Linked DNA regions of Homo sapiens. Changing the gene in region 2 together with the main gene of any one other region gives a genetic interaction. Each region holds a gene or a part of one and is shown on either strand. Other genes may lie near its edges.

What was found.
Region 1: of SATB2 (region 2) and PALLD, changing one enhances a phenotype caused by changing the other (phenotypic enhancement), as found in Homo sapiens cells (one study listed by BioGRID).

Annotation. Positions count from the first base shown.
Region 1 is NC_000004.12:168,492,521-168,500,306, reverse strand, and holds the start of PALLD (palladin), read right to left. Parts: upstream 3,256-7,786; 5' UTR 3,113-3,255; intron 1-3,112. UniProt on the Homo sapiens protein: Cytoskeletal protein required for organization of normal actin cytoskeleton. Roles in establishing cell morphology, motility, cell adhesion and cell-extracellular matrix interactions in a variety of cell types.
Region 2 is NC_000002.12:199,454,218-199,462,235, forward strand, and holds the start of SATB2 (DNA-binding protein SATB2), read right to left. Parts: upstream 3,723-8,018; 5' UTR 3,122-3,722; intron 1,880-3,121; 5' UTR 1,821-1,879; coding exon 1,652-1,820; intron 1-1,651. UniProt on the Homo sapiens protein: Binds to DNA, at nuclear matrix- or scaffold-associated regions. Thought to recognize the sugar-phosphate structure of double-stranded DNA.

The DNA.
Region 1 (7,786 bases), on a different chromosome or scaffold from region 2:
AAATTACAACAGATTTCTTTGACGTGGAGGAACTTGGGGAAGACAAGGAATATACATGAGAAAGAGCAGAGTCTAGTAAGTAGAAAGAATTCAGTGACAATGCAAGTTGTTCCTACATAACAGCTTGGAAGTTACCTGCTTTCAAAAGTGAACAGTTTGATCCTCAGAACAATCCATGTAGTAGATGTTATTTTTCTATTTTATTGTTTGTATTACCCACAACTGCAGCAGAAAAAGTTTCAATTATTTGGCCCAACCTGAGCCATCAGAAAGTGGCAGACTCAGGGTGGAAGCCTGCATTTAACTGCAAAGTTTTCTTCTCTCATTGGAGATATTATAGGAAATTACTTTAAAAATTTAGATAAGGGGAAAACTTTTGAAGTCTGTTTGTGAAATACTTTGAGTCGATGAAGAACTGCTACAATTTTGAAAGAAAAAGTTTGATGTTAGAAAAACATTGACAGGCAGTAAGGATCACTTAATACCATGTACCACATTCAGCAGATTCTTTAGAGAGTCCAGGTGGAATAGCTAAATTCCCATAGTCATTTAAAAATGTATACATAGATAGGAATAAATATATGAAAATGGTTGGAATAACATACACCAAACAATCAACACTGACCTCTGTGGGGGGATTTAGGCAGGGGTAGGAGTTGAAAGGTGGGACATGCAGGGGGATCTTTTGTTGCTTATTTTGTAATTTTTGAAAAAAAGTTATAAGTGATTTTTAATTTTAGGTTTAGCAGTTTTATTTTCATATTTAAGCAATTACTAAAAAAGTAATGCAAACCATTGATACAAATATTAGATATTGAAATATCTTTTAATAAAACCTAAACTATGAAAACCAAAGTTAGAAAAGCTTTAACACTTAATTTTCATGCTTCAGAATCACAGGCAACCCCCCTAGACTAAATCAATAAAGTCCCTCCCTTCCTCCCTCCCCCCTCCCTCCCTTCTGCCTCCCTTCCCCCTTCTTCCATGTCTCCCTCCCTTCCTCCCTCCCATCCTCCCTCCCATCCTCCCTCCCATCCTCCCTCCCTTCCTCCCTCCCTTCTCCCTTCCTTCTTCCCCGTCTCCCTTTCTTTCTTCCTTCCTTTTTTTTTTTTTTTTTTTTTTTTTTGCTACAAAGGGTCCTTTAGGGCAAAAGTCAAACACGAAAATTTTATGAAATTTTATGTTTGATGCAGAAAATGCACTACAATTTTATAATTTATTTCTTAATAAATACACATGGATTATTTTCCTTTCTAATTATTAAATTGTCAATGCAGGCAGATATATTTATCCTACAGTTTTAAATATCTCTTTAAACAGCTTATTTAATCTCAATTTCAAGGACATAATCTAATAGCTCATTTAATGCAGAAACAGCCAAATAAGATACTTTACAGAGTTTTTGAAGTTATCCCATGTCCTGTTCATCTTATCAACTTTATTCACCATACTGAGTCCATTGCAAATATTTAGATTTTACTTCTGAATTATCCATTTCCATTACCATTATCCAATTCAGGGCTTTATTCTTCTCACTTAAATTCAAAACCTATTTACCAAATTTGCTTCTATATTCTCTAATATGATTTAACAGTTAGAAATTTTAGTCGAAGATACTTTGTTCAATCTTTGTTTTCTTTGCTGTAATTTCACCGGGACACAGTCATTAACTCTAGATGGCCTGAATTTCTAACTGGAGCTCAGTAATTGCAATACCCTTTGACAGCCTCCACACACATATTGTTTAAGAAGTGGAGCTCTTGTCTGGGCCTTGCAGATTCCACTTGGTATCTCTTAAAGAACTTGTCATATTTATTTTTAAACCTGAATAATGATTGCCCTCTACATTTTTAAAAAATGAGGTAAGGAGGTCAAAGTGATTGTACTTGTCCAGTGCAATCCAGATCCTCATTCTATTGTGAAATATGCTATAAGGCCAGTTTTAATATTCAGCTCTAGCAATAACAGAGAAACCCAGAGGAAGAGCTGACACAGAACCCCTGGGATACAGACCCTAATCCATACCAGATTCTAGGATGCCAGAGGACTAATTTATATTCTAGGAATGTGTAATCATGTATTTACAGGGCAGTTAGTGGCCAGATAAACCTCATCGGCCTTTTCTGCTGTTAGCAATAACTTGTCAAAGAGACTTTGATTTTAAAAATCTGAAAAAAAAATCTGAATAATTGAGGTGAGTATTCAAGTTCTTTCTGTGAGAAAAAACATTGGAAGGCACATTTATCATGAAATGAGGATTTAATTTCTGCATATATGTGATTGAATAGATTTGTAATAGTTTTATATTGCCAAGAAATGGCTTTATATGTCACCACATTATTCATACTAGAAGGCAATTAGTATTTTTAGCAAATGTTAATAAGTAATATGAGCCTGAAATCATTTTATGTCAACCTCCTATATTGGATTCAAGACAATTTCATGTGCAACTTAAAACAACATGATAAAAATTATTCTGTGATGTTTAAACTTGACTGGACTCGAGATTGCACTGTGGTTTCCCTTAGTAAGCGTTATCTTATTAAAAATATGTATGTAAATTTTATGCATGAATATAATTTAAAATACCTGCTGTTACTATCCCAACTCATTTAATTATGTCCAGTGAGTTACTTTTAGAATCTTTTGAAAGTGTAATTAACAATTTATAATGTTACTGAAATCTAAGGTCTATCACTTTAAGCCATCATCACTTATCTAGCTTAAATATGGGTGAGGGTCTAGAAAGCTGCGTTTTCCTTTTCTGTGAAACATAACACATACACGATCTTGACAAAAGCTGGCTCCATAAATACATTTAATCCTTTTGGAATTGATAGCACCATCTTAGCATGCTTAAGCTTATAACAGAAAGTGTAATTCTCTGACAGCAAAGGCAGAGATGAAGTGGGCAGGCAAATCTTACGTATTATCTGTTTTTGGCAAAACCGTAACATTCTCATTACGTTTCCTCTCCAAGCAAAAGAATAATTAAGGTATCTTGTAAATAGTATCATATCTTCAGAAAAACTTTTGTATTTTTAGTTTTTTTTTTTTTAAGTCCTTAAAATGTTGCCCTACTAGTTAGTATATTAAGATACACCTTACAGACCTTTTCAATGCTTGGTCAGTTTGAAGACTCCAGAGAGGTGATGAATTTCAGATGAGCATTTCTTCTTTTCTGGGAGAATGGAGGTTGTGGCCTTGCCTATTCATTAGAGACTGCCTGGTCCGTGGTCACTTTGAGGCAACTGTGGCCTCAGACTCTCATCTGTCCTCTTACTCCACTCAGCTATATTTGGTAACTGAGCTCATGTTTCAGCAGACTGCCACGATCAGGAATTCCAGCAGCGGGCTGGGAAGCACCCCCAGGACCGAGGGCTGGGTTCTTAGAAATAAAGCCACTTAACATAGAAGGAACTATATTTATGGATCTGATAAACGTAGGATTTAAACACATTCTTCTATACTTTGGACTTGTAGCTGGAAATCACCACCTGGACCTTTAACATGTTCTTAATCAATTTAAAGTACAGTATGTGACTCCAAGTAGAAAAAGTGATAATCCAAATGGAAGCTCTTCTTACTCTGATCTTCTGTTCTGTGCATTTAAATTTTGGTCATGTGCTAGATTACCCTAAAATAGTAAATTCAGTAACTGAAAATTTAGCCACCTGTCAAATTGAGTGGAAAGTCCCATTGTTCTCTTATTTCATATTGCTAATTAAAAATTGATATATGACTATGGTATGTATTAAAGGCCTTGTCTATAATAGTATTAAATAAGTATGAACACACAGGGACTGGATCTTATCCACATTGCAACATTGAGTTCTTAGCTCAATGCCTAGGACATCATGAGCATCTCTTAAATATTTGTCAAAGAAATAAATGAATGTTGAATGAATAATATTCAGGAAAAGTATCAACCCTCTTACAGTTGCAAAAAATGTTTCACAATCATTTAATATTTTGATCTTTCAAATGACAAATAGATATAGCAAGAGTTTAATATTTTGATCTTTTAAATAACAAACATAGATAGCAAGAAGAGAAAGCTTTTCTGTTTAAAGGTCAGGTAGCAGAATCAAATATAAGGGGGGCAAAAAGAGCAACACAAAAGCTCCCAGTTAACTTGGAAATGGGGTGCTGAGTCTTCCTTTGTCTGGGTAAGACCATCACATTTGATTCAGTTTAATATCTAAATATTTTTTCTTTTCTGATGTTAGAAAATTTGTGAAGGTCTGCTATTGTATTTTCTTTATAGGCCAAACTGGTCCTTTAGAAATGGTCCTTTCTGTGAGTGGATACTTCTGTGGGTCATTTCATCTATTATATTAATTAAGAAGTGATTTTAAAATTTATACTTACGGCTGGGCGTGGTGGCTTATGCCTGTAATTGCAGTACTTTGGGAGGCCGAGGTGGGTGGATCATGAGGTCAGGAGATTGAGACCATCCTGGCTAACACAGTGAAACCCCCTCTCTACTAAAAATACAAAAAATTAGCTGGGCGTGGTGGCGGGTGCCTGTAGTCCCAGCCACTTGGGAGGCTGAGGCAGGAGAATGGTGTGAACCCGGGAGGCGGAGCTTGCAGTGAGCCGAGATCCCATCACTGCACTCCAGCCTGGGTGACAGAGCGAGACTCCTTCTTAAAAAAAATAAAAATAAAAATAAAAAAATAAAATTTATACTTACAAGGAAATATAACTCTGATTGATTGTCTTAGTTTGTGTCATTATAACAAAATGCCACAGACTGGGTAATTTACAAAGAACAGAAATTGATTTCTCATAGTTCTGGAGGCTGGGAAGTCTAAGATCAAGGTGCCAGCAGGTTTGTTGTCTGGTGAAGTTCCTGTCTCTGCTTCCACAGTGATGCCTTGAGCACTGTGTCCTCACATGGCAGAAGGTGGAAGGGCAAGAGGGGGTCAAACTTCCTCCATCAAGCCCTAAGGGCATCAAATCCCATTCATGAGGAGTCCTCCTGAATCACCTTCTAAACGTTACACCTCCTGATACTGTTGCATAGGGGATTAGGAATCAACAAAAATTTTGAAGGGGACAAAAACCTTCAAACCATAGCATTGCTTAAACACATATTTATATCTGCTTTTTCCTAAAACCACAAGATAATAGTAAAAACTGAAAAGGGCAGAAATTGGGAGGGAAGACAATAGAAGATATCAGAAATGAACAAAATTGTTGGAAAGAGATAAATATAAGTATGCATGTAACTAAATTACAAAGCTTAAATGCCTGCAGGAGGAGATACAGAAAAGAAGCAAGTGATTCACCCCATGGAGTCTCAGAAAGGCTTGGGAATAGGAAGCAGTGAACCCATCTTTAGAAATAATTTTAATTGGCAACTCTGATTTTTGCCTCTGCCTTCTGGTGAACTGTGAGTCTCATGGTGAATTCCAGAGGCAATCATGTTGGACTACTGGCCAGACGAGGCCTCTCCCACATTTCTTTGGATTGCTTGGTTCCTAAATCCTGGTATAACACCAGTGAAGTGATGAAGCCATAAGAAGAAAAAAGAAAAAAAAACAGCTTGTGGTCCTGAGAGAGGCTTCAAAGATGGATATGACTTTACTCAAAAGGACACAGAAATGTGACCTTTTTGTGTGTGTATTGCAAATAGTGCAGCAAACCAAGCTTGTTTTAAAAATCTTATAAGAAGTTCTTTTCCTTAGAAAATTGGCATCAAAAAAATTTAGAAAGTTTGATCAACACTCTTAAGTTAGTATAGCAAGGTCCAGTTGATATTAAGGATGAGATTAGTGTGTGGACAGTAATATCATTTCTCATGCACTTTCATATTTTCCACCAGAGCCCATTTCTGTGTGCACGAAGGTTGGGAAAGGGAGTCTGTGGCTCCTTCATGGGGCTCCAGTTCAGCTTTCAAATGATTACTTCTTCTTATAGAAATTCCTGCTCTTTTGAAGCACTTATATTTGCATCAACCATCCTCCATCCCACTTTTTAAAATTAAGACTTTGGATCTAGTTGGGCTCTTGGTTCTCTTCTTCACTCCACACCCTGCCATTATTCTGGGTGACTCAGCACCCATTTGTCTATTCTATATGTTGGCATATTGGTTTTGGACCTGCTTTTCTCTATGAATCTTCATCTCTGTTCCTCTTACAGATCACACAAACAGACCTCCTCCACCTCCAAAATCAGATATAACTTATCTACTGCTTCATAACAAATTACTGCAAAAATTAATGTCTTAAAACAATATATATTTGTTATTTCACACAGTTTCTATGTGTCAGGAATCCATTAGTCTTAGCTGGGTAATTCCAGATCAGGGTATCATGAGATAGTACTGAAGATGTTGCCCCAGCTTCTTTCAGGTGGAAGCATGGCTGGGGCTGGAAAATCTGCTTCCAAGGCAGCTCACTCACGTGCCTGGAAAGTTAGTCCTGTTATTGGCTGGAACCCTGTTGACTTCTCTGTGTCACTGCCTGAGTTTCCTAGCTTCATGGCAGCTGGATTGTGCCACAATGTCTTTTTTTTTAAAGTGGAGTTTTGCTCTTGTTGCTGGAGTGCAGTGGCATGACCTCAGCTCACTGCAACCTCCACCTCCTGGGTTCAAGTGATTCTCCTGCCTCAGCCTCCCAAGTAGCTGGGATTACAGGTGCCCACCACCACGCCCAGATATTTTTTTGTATTTTTAGTAGAGATGGGGTTTCACCATGTTGGCCAGGCTGGTCACAAACTCCTGACCTCAGGTGATCCACCCACCTCAGCCTCCCATAGTTTTGGGATTACAGGTGTGAGCCACCGCGCCCGGCCCCATTATATCTTTTATGATCCAGCCTTGGAGGTCATATTTCGTCTTTCCCGCAGTATCCTTTAGTTATACAAATTGGCAGTATCCACTGTGGGAGGAGACTGCATAGAGGCGTAAAAACCAGTTGGCAAGACAATGCATTGGTGGTCATCTTGGCAGTTGGCTACCACACCTCTATTCCCTTTAACCCATCAGTCCTATAGCCACATTGGGGCATGCTCTGTTTTCACAACTGCACGTTCAAACATGTTATTTGACTGTAAACTTTCTTCCTCTAGCTCTCTCATACACTGATTTTTCTTCTTCACCAGAATTTCCAGGCTGTAGATCACTCTGTTTTGAGATTATCTATCAGTCTGCCTCCCAGGTTCAGGTCAATCGAGGATACTGGTTTACAAACTTTGTTTTAGGAGATACAAACTCTTGGGCAGCCAATAGAAAAAGTAAAGGTATTCAAAGTTTCCTTGATGAAAGGGGTGTGCAAAGGAATGCAGCAGACTTGCTCATTCATCCCCCTTGGACGTTTTCTTTTTCTTACGATCCAGGAAGTTTGAAAATCCTAAGTTTCAAGAAACAAGTCTACTTACTCCCTTTTCACTTTTATTCCTCTCTTCATTCCCAGCGTCAACCACCAGGAAACAAGGATCACGGAGCATGTGAGAAAATGGTAATTGAGAAGGCTGATCAAGGAACACACTAAAATTGGAGGCATGAAACACTTGCAGAATTGTCCCAATGGTCCATCTGGGGATCCTGGGAACAAGTGTCTTTCAAGCCACGACCAGTCTTTCTACTTCTTCCTCATACTTTGTATCTGGCTTGTGTACATGTCACAGAATCAGGTATGGCCCCAAAGACTTGTCTGATTAAACTGGTATATCTATCTGTACGTAGCAGGGAACTCCAGATTTGTCCCTCATGAGCTCGATTTTATGAACTGTGATTAAATCTGCATAAATGTAGCCTGAGCCTGTGGGTGATCTTTTG
Region 2 (8,018 bases):
CATTCTAAAATGTTTACAGCTCCTTTCAATTTAGTGAATTTTATTAGATCTTCAGAAAGATACCAAAATTTTAAGTCCAAGCCTTTTCTGTCCACAAAGGCCACTTTGGAACACACTGTCTCCAAGGAGTTTCAGAACTTTTTCAAACATTTTCAGCACTTAGCATATCTCATAATTGGTACCATCATACTCTATGAATTTTTATTTCTTATATGCATATACTAACTGATTATGCCAAAAGTCTGACATTATTTGCTCCAGTATCAGGACAACAAATTAATAAACCTCTCTTTTAAAAAGTGGGTCACAGAACTGTTTTCTTTTGCTTCAATAAAGTATATTTTCAAGTCCCAAAAAGGGGAGATAAACAAGCCAGAATCCATCACCAAACTTTTTAACTCACAACATTGAAAGGATGAATACTTCTCAAGTGAGACGATTAATATGAAAGACTGAGACAAACCATCCTAAGTATTTACCATGAAGAAATAGAAATAGCAAAATAAGTAAAAAGAAAAAAATACGATTTTATAAAACGTATGTGTTCAACTCTTTAAGGAGGAATGAACATTTTTAGATGTAAGTAACTATTTTGAAATACACACAATAGACACTTACAACAAGGGGGTGGGAGCTTATCATTAAGGTTTGCCAAGGTTTTATATCATTTAAGACAAGTTAATATATTGAATATTAAATGGGCTACTGTTGAAATTATTAGAGAAAAAACGTTAGAGGCAAAAAAAATTAAACTAGTGATTTATGCCAAACACACAGAAAACCTGCATGCCATGTGGAATTGTGGATTTTACATGTAAAAGACAACTAAGCAAATGGCATACAAACTCCAAAATATTTCAATGTTTAAATTTCTCCCATATCTTTATTTTGTATGATTGCTTTTCCTGACCACTTTAAAAGAAAGTAGTTGCTTAAGTAGTAAAAACTACAAAAGATTTTCTTTAAATAAAATTATTAATAAATTCTTTGGAGGGGAAACTACATCTAGTTGATAAGGCTACTTTGCTATTTTTATCTGTTCTCCTATAATTCATAATAAAGTTACGAATGCATATGACTAAACTTTATAGACAACAGCAGCATTTAAGCTTCTAAGGGCCTGATGGATTCATGGTGATTCTTTATTTCCCACATTTCACGTGGCAGGAAATATTCCCAGTTGTCATTCATCTGTCTTGAAGCACTGTCCTCACTACAAAGTAACATCAACTCTCCTTGTTCCTGTACTCGCCTGAGCATTAATGACTATTTTATTCCCTAAAAGCGAACGCACGTGAACTTCATCCCTACAACAGACACTCCGAGGCAAGGCAAAAGAGTTAAATCACTAAAAAGCTCTCTAGGAAAATCTAGAAACAGTTAGCTGGCTGTGACATAAACCTGCCAACACCTCAGCACACAGTGGCAAAATGCCCAAAAAATGCCACCCTCTGGGTAAAACCACTTTCTTGTTTTAACTGGAGATGAAGCTACCAGTTGCAGATGAGAGGCGACGGGGGCATTATTTGGCAACCTGGAATTCACTTCCTGTAATCCTACACCGCGACAGCGCCTAATCAACCTGAACCCTGACACCCGGGCCATTATCACTGGGCCGCGGGCTGCGCGCCTCCCTGCTCCGGGCTGTTACCTCCCACGGCCTTGGCCACGGCGCCGTTGGGCCTCCCGCGGGCTCCCATGGGGCTGCCGTTCTGCTCCAGCCGGGCCACCTTCACTGGGGGAGGCCCCTTGACGTCCGGGCTGCCGCTCCGCCGGTCGGGGCTGTCCCGCAGACACGGGCTCTCGCTCCGCCGCTCCATGCTGCTCCGACTCGGAGACAAAGTTCCCACCGGCAGGTCGCAATAAAACGCACAGGGACCTAGGGAGGGGGTGGGGGGAGGAAGGGGGAGGGAGAAAAAAGAGGGAAAACCGCTCATACACGTGATAGACGTTCAGGCCAGTGGCAGAGCGCTGCACCACAGCCACACAAACTTCCTCCCACGCTGCCCGAGGGGCCCGAGCCGGGAAGCCGGTCCCAACCTTACACTGGGCGGCCCCCAGGAAGCCCAGCGCCTCGGTTCGGCGACTCTGCCCAGTCGCAGCTCCCCAGAAGTCAGCCCTCGGGGTCGCGGCCGGGGTTGGCACCCAGGGGCGCCTAGAAGTGGTCCATTCATTGGGACGGGGTTGGCATAAACCGTTCCTGGGTGCTACAGCCTAGCCCGTCCCGGGGTCAGGGTTGCGGAATAAGTGAACTTCAGAAAAAGACGTTCCACCCACATGGGAAGGGAGTTGGGGGTGTGCGCAAGTCCATAACCGAATTAACCACCCGGTAAATGCGCTGTGAATGGCCAGGCAGGAGCCAAAGGCCGGGCGAAAGAACCCCTTGAATACCCGCTTTTTACCTATACGGAGCAAGTCCTGAGATAAGCACACACCTGCATAAAATCAACCCTAATTCCACATTAATAAGCATCCGAAAACACTTGGAGGTATTTATCAGAATAACCTCCATCACAAAGGCGGGCGCTACAATCGTTATTATTTTGGAGCGTTCTTATCTTCATCTGATCCCCAGTGCTTTTTTAAAGCTCTTCAATATAAAACACAAAAGCAAAAAGCATTTGAATTCTTAGTGCAAGAGCAGCCTTCATCCGCCCCAATTTTAACATCGCTCCAGAAAGTTTTCCTCTGGGTCACTAGGTTGGCAGTGCGCTCCCCACGGAAGCCGCAGGTCTCGACACCCCTGGATTGGGGGGGTGGGGGGGGGCGGGGAAGGAGGGGAAACACCTGATGAAACGGCGCTCGCGTTGTCACTGACACCCGCAAGAAGCAAGACCCCGGCACCGTACTGCGTGCGCGCTGGGAATCCTCGTGGGCGCTCTGGCCGCGCGAGCAGTGTCGGCGCCACGGGTCAAGGAGACAAGGTGGGGGTGGCAGGGGGAGGTGAAAGGAAGGATGCGAGATGAAGACACGGAGCAGGAGGGCTGAGGGCGAGGCTTCCGCCTGCATTCCCCGACTTCGCGGTCCGAGAGGCCGAGAGCGGCGGGGAGGGGACTTCGTTGGCCCTGGGCTTCCCCGAACTCCCGAGCGCGGCGCGGGAGCCCTCGCCCTGCGTACTTACTGCTCACGGTCTGTCTGAAACTTGGCTGACTGGGGCTCTGTCCATGGAGCAAAAGTAGAGAATCCAGGGTGGAAAGTTTCTGGTGCTTGGCTTTGCAGTGTTCTCCTAGTCTTCCTCTTTACTCCTTCCCCTTCCCTCTTCCCCAGGTCCTAATGTTTAAGGTCCTGGGTCAGGGTGTCTTCTTCTGGTGCGGAGATGGTTGTTATGATGATGATGGGGGGAGGGAGGAGGGGGAGGAGGAGGAGAGGGAAAGGACTCCTCCAAAGGGACACCCGAGCGAGCGGGGGAGGGGACGGCGGAGGAGGGGGGAAGAGAAGGAGGCTGAAAGAGCCTTTTCACACCTTCGGGAAGGAGACCCGTTCTGGAGAGAAAGGGCTGAGAACCCGGAGGCGGCGGCGGCGGCGGCGAGCCGGGGCTGCTGGTTCGCAGGGCGGCTAGCTCGCGAGGAGGCGCGGCCAGAGCGGTGGGACCGGTAACACCAAGAGCCGAGAAGACGCAGGGACCCGGGACCGCGCGCGGGAGGAAACGCGGCGGCCGCCCAAGCTGTCACCTCCAGCCTCTCCCCTCTCGGCCGCCTCTGCCAGCAGCCAGAGCCGGACTCACTGACAAGCCGCAGAGAGAGACACACTGAGAGGGAGATGATTATTAGTTGCGTTGAGTCATCAGGCAAAGTGAGTCCTTTTGGGTTGTCCTCGGTTTCCGATTTCTCCCCCTCCCCCTTTCGGTCCCCAGATCTAGCGCCTTCAAAATAATAATTTGGGGTGGGGGTAGGGGAAGTCTCTGGATTATTTCGGGATGGGGGTGGGGGGGATGGATCTAAACCCAAGCCAGACTGGTCCACCGCAAGAAAAGAGGGGAGTGGGGGGCGGGGAGGAGGGCTGGGGAGGTTGCGGGGGGAGGGGGGCCCCGCCTGGCAGGAAATTAAACATCAATCAATCAATCGCTGTGAGCACGGCGACCCAACGGCGGCGGGGCTGCGAAGGAGGCAGAGGGACAGGCGAGGGGCGGGTGGGAGGCAGGGAGGAGGGAAGAGGAAGGGGAGAGTCGGCGGTCGGAGCGGGGTGACGAGGACCTCATGCACGAGGCGGCGAAGGACCGATGGCAGAGAACCGAGTGCGGCGCGAGGCGGTGGCCGCGGCCAGCGGGTGGGTGCGTCTGGGCGCAGGCGGGCACCGGGGCCCAGGGTCTGGTCCTCCTCCTTGTGGCGGGTCCAGGGCGCGGCCGCCTCGCCCAGCCCCTAGGCGCACTCGTCCCGGCGCGGAGGCGGCGGCGACAAGGCAGTCGCTGGGTGCCGCGTCTGCCGGCGGAGACGCAGACCGACGCGCAAGAGGCGACCGCGGCTGCCTCGGCTCCCAGCTCTGTTAACTGCGCGGAGTACTTTCGACTTTGGAGATAGGAGGGCGATCGCCTCCCCCACCCACCGCCTCCGCCCACCACCCACCGCCTCCGCCCCTCCGAGCAACTTTTCCCGGTGCCTGCGAGCTCCCCCTCCGCGCCGAGCCGAACGTCCCGGCCCGCCGCGCTTCGTGCCGCCGCGCGCGCAGGGAAGGCCGCTTCTCCTTCAAAGCTGGCACGGCCGCGAGTCCGGAACAATAGTCGGGGTGTCCCGAATGCCAGGAGCACGGCCACTGCCCGCCGGGCTGTGGGTGGCACAGGAATGGGGGTTGCGTGGTGGATGCAGAGCGGGGTGCATCCCTGGATGGCATCGCTGGAGCGCTCGCCGCTCCGGCGACATCGCGAGCGGTGCAAACCGGGCCGCCTGGAGCCCGTGACGCGGTGGCGGCGAGGGCGGTGGGGCTGCCTGTCCTCGGGCTACAGGACTGGGGCTCCTGGGGACCCCAAGCTGCTCGAGCCCAGGGCTGCTGGCGCCAACAGAGCTGTGCCCTGAGGACCCGGCCTCCCCGCCCGGGGGGAGGCCGCACAGGAGCGTCCCCAGCAGGTCCCGCGAAGGCGTAACAGAGCCACAAACTTTTGCCGACTCCCGCGGCCGCGGCCGCCGGCAGCCCGACTCCGGCCGCGGTGCTCATTTAAGGTGGCGCGGGCACTAGCCGAGCAGGCTGGCCTCTGGCCGCGCTTTTGTCCCTGCGATTCCGCTTGGGCGCGCTGCCTCCTTAAGGAAAAGCACGTGGGCAGGGGCCGCAGCCCCCGCGAGATACCCGGGGCGTCGGCGGACATTAGCCGCTAGGACCTTAGGCGAGAAAATGTGGACGCATCCCCGCCGGCCCTGAGGCCAGAGAATCCCCCCTCAACTGGTTGCACCTCATGTCCCTCCCGCACACGTTGACTCTCCCTCCTAATCCCCAGGACCCCGAGGGCTCTCCCACATCTCCCGCAGCAAGAGCCACCGATCCCCCTTAAGAAGCGTTGACTGTACGGCGGCGCCAGAGGGCCAAACTAAGTTCGGTTTCGGGAAACGCTCTCGGGAGCAGTTCTGTAAATCCCTGCTGGGAGCAGAGACTGCGAAAAGCTGAGTCCGCCGATCGTGCCCGGGACAAGGCTGCCTTCCACTCGCCCTCGCCGCATCTACCTGGTAGGCGGCATGCGCACGGGCTTAGAGGCTTGAGAGCCTCTGGAAGAGAAAGGGTCCCAGGAAGGAAACCTGCCCCCGGCCTAAGTGTCGGCGCCCAGATCACCACGAACCCCGCACCTAGGCGCCGCCCACCAAGTTCCAAAGAAGTCCGAGGCGACCTGGGAGTCGGTCGGATCCCAGCCGAGAAAAGAAACAAGCAGGATAGCAATTCTTAGGGGAGCCACCCTGGGAGTTTTAGGCAGCGTTTGCCTTTCCCTGGTTTTCTTCACCAAGCCCCATCCTCCCCCCGCATACCACCCCCAGTCAAAAGAGTGGGAGAAAATGCACAGTTCGAAGTCGGTGAGAGCAAAAATGGGTCTAGTAAATCAACCCGTGGTGGTAGCTAAAAGGTTTGGGGCTGCAAAGAAACAAACTGTAAGTTTTGAGCAACAAACTTTTTCTTCAATCTGTAATATGTCGAAATGGGAAGGGGGTGTTGCAAAAGCCAACTACCACTGTCAAACTTAGCCCGTTTACAACATGGGGAAAGGCGTATTTCTTACTAATATCTCAACAACGATAACAATGCTGTATCCTTCCTTACCTTGATGTTGAACTGCGAATCCTCCTCCGGATCAATGTCCAGGAACTTAGAAGAATTGGTGATATTAGGAGTTCAGTACTTCTGGAAAAAAATGCAAATGGTTTAGCCAGGATCTTTCCTGTCTGATTCGTCACTATTATTATATCTGATGATGCGAATGGTTGGAGCGATTCAATCCTAAGTCATTAATGAGCTATTTTATAAACACCACTGTCTGAAGATCTTCATTTACATTTTGCTAAGGATCACTTCGCTAACCTCACAGGCTTGTGTCAACAGCATGATTTGCAGGACTTCAGTTACACTCTTATAAACAACACGGCTGTATTGTTAATCGGTTAATATTTTATAAAGTGTAAATATTTTATTATGTTTTGAAGGGAACTATTGATTCTAAATTATTAAACCCCTGAGAAGGACTATTTAAATGAAATATACAATTAAGTACAATTAAATGTACATTGTGGTTAGTTTGTTTTCAGATTCTGCACCCTTTTAAATTCATTGCTTTTCTCTTTACTGGAGTTTCCTCTTGTCCATTTCTGATACTGAAAAAAATCTATCATGTTAGGAAAAAGCCTAAATTATTTAAAGTTGCATTAAACTTAGAGGAAAATGTCAAATACGATTAATTATGACCAGAAATGTATTTTGGATGTTTGTAGAGTTGTATTTCATATCACATTTTACAAATTTCTTCCGATTTAAAGGAGAGTTCTAGGAAGTTTTGTGATCTATGTCCGGTGTGGGTTTTTGTCCTCTCGAGTTTTGTCTCTAATAAAGGCCTTTTTTGTTTCAAATTACATACGCTTTTTACTGCACAATTTTTGTATTGACCTTATTTCAACTGAAGCGATTATTTCCAGCAGGTTTAATTTCGACAATAAGATATATTTTAATAGTTTTACCTTTCGCTAGAATTTTGTATTGTTTAAAACAGTAAATGAATAAATTTGCTGATGATTCAAGAATATTTGTTTGGTTTCGTTTTGTATCCCTCAAAAGGTTTATTTCCAAACTTTTTAAAACAAAATCACGAGAAAAGAGTTGTTTTAATTACGTTTGATTTTTAAAAATACTTTTATCTAAAACCCATTTTGTGCATTAGGAGATAGTTTGCTTCCATGCTCAAAACATGGAGTTCACATCTGGGGGACATTTTTATCCCTCAGTTTCCTTCTAACTGACGTTTTTGTCGGGAATCTGCTCAGACTTTTCCCCTTTTCTTCACCCACCTCCCAAGTTTTCCTTATGTAATTTAGTAAAAGGCCGCCTGTTTTTCACAAACACGGATTTGTTATTTTAAAAATCAATAGATCTTTATATGCTAGTGTTAAAGGTGTATGGTTTTTCTTATTTCCATCTTCTCTCCTTTTCTCTCTGTCAGGCCTTCTTTTATGGCCTGCACTCTAATGACGTTTCTTGATTTCTCTTTGTCGACACCAAGTTTTTGTTGTGCGTGCTTTCGACCCTGGTCAACCTTCCTTCCTAGAGGCCCGCTCCGGACAGCGTAGGCCTGGGCGCCTGGGTGGAGGGTGCAGGGTGCCGGGCGCGGGACTTCGGCTCTCGCCTGGGCCATCCCGGGCTCTGAGGGCCCGGCATCCATCCCCAAGGTCCATGGCTTTCAAGTTCGGTCACCCAGGCAGAGAGACCCTGCCTTTTAAAGAGCCCTGGAAAGTTGCGCCGCGTTTTCCCTCAACCCTGGAACACGCAGGGAAAACTATGGGAATCGCCCGCGTCAAAAGCTTTCGACGGCTTCTAGGAACCCAAGCGGGCCTGCCTCT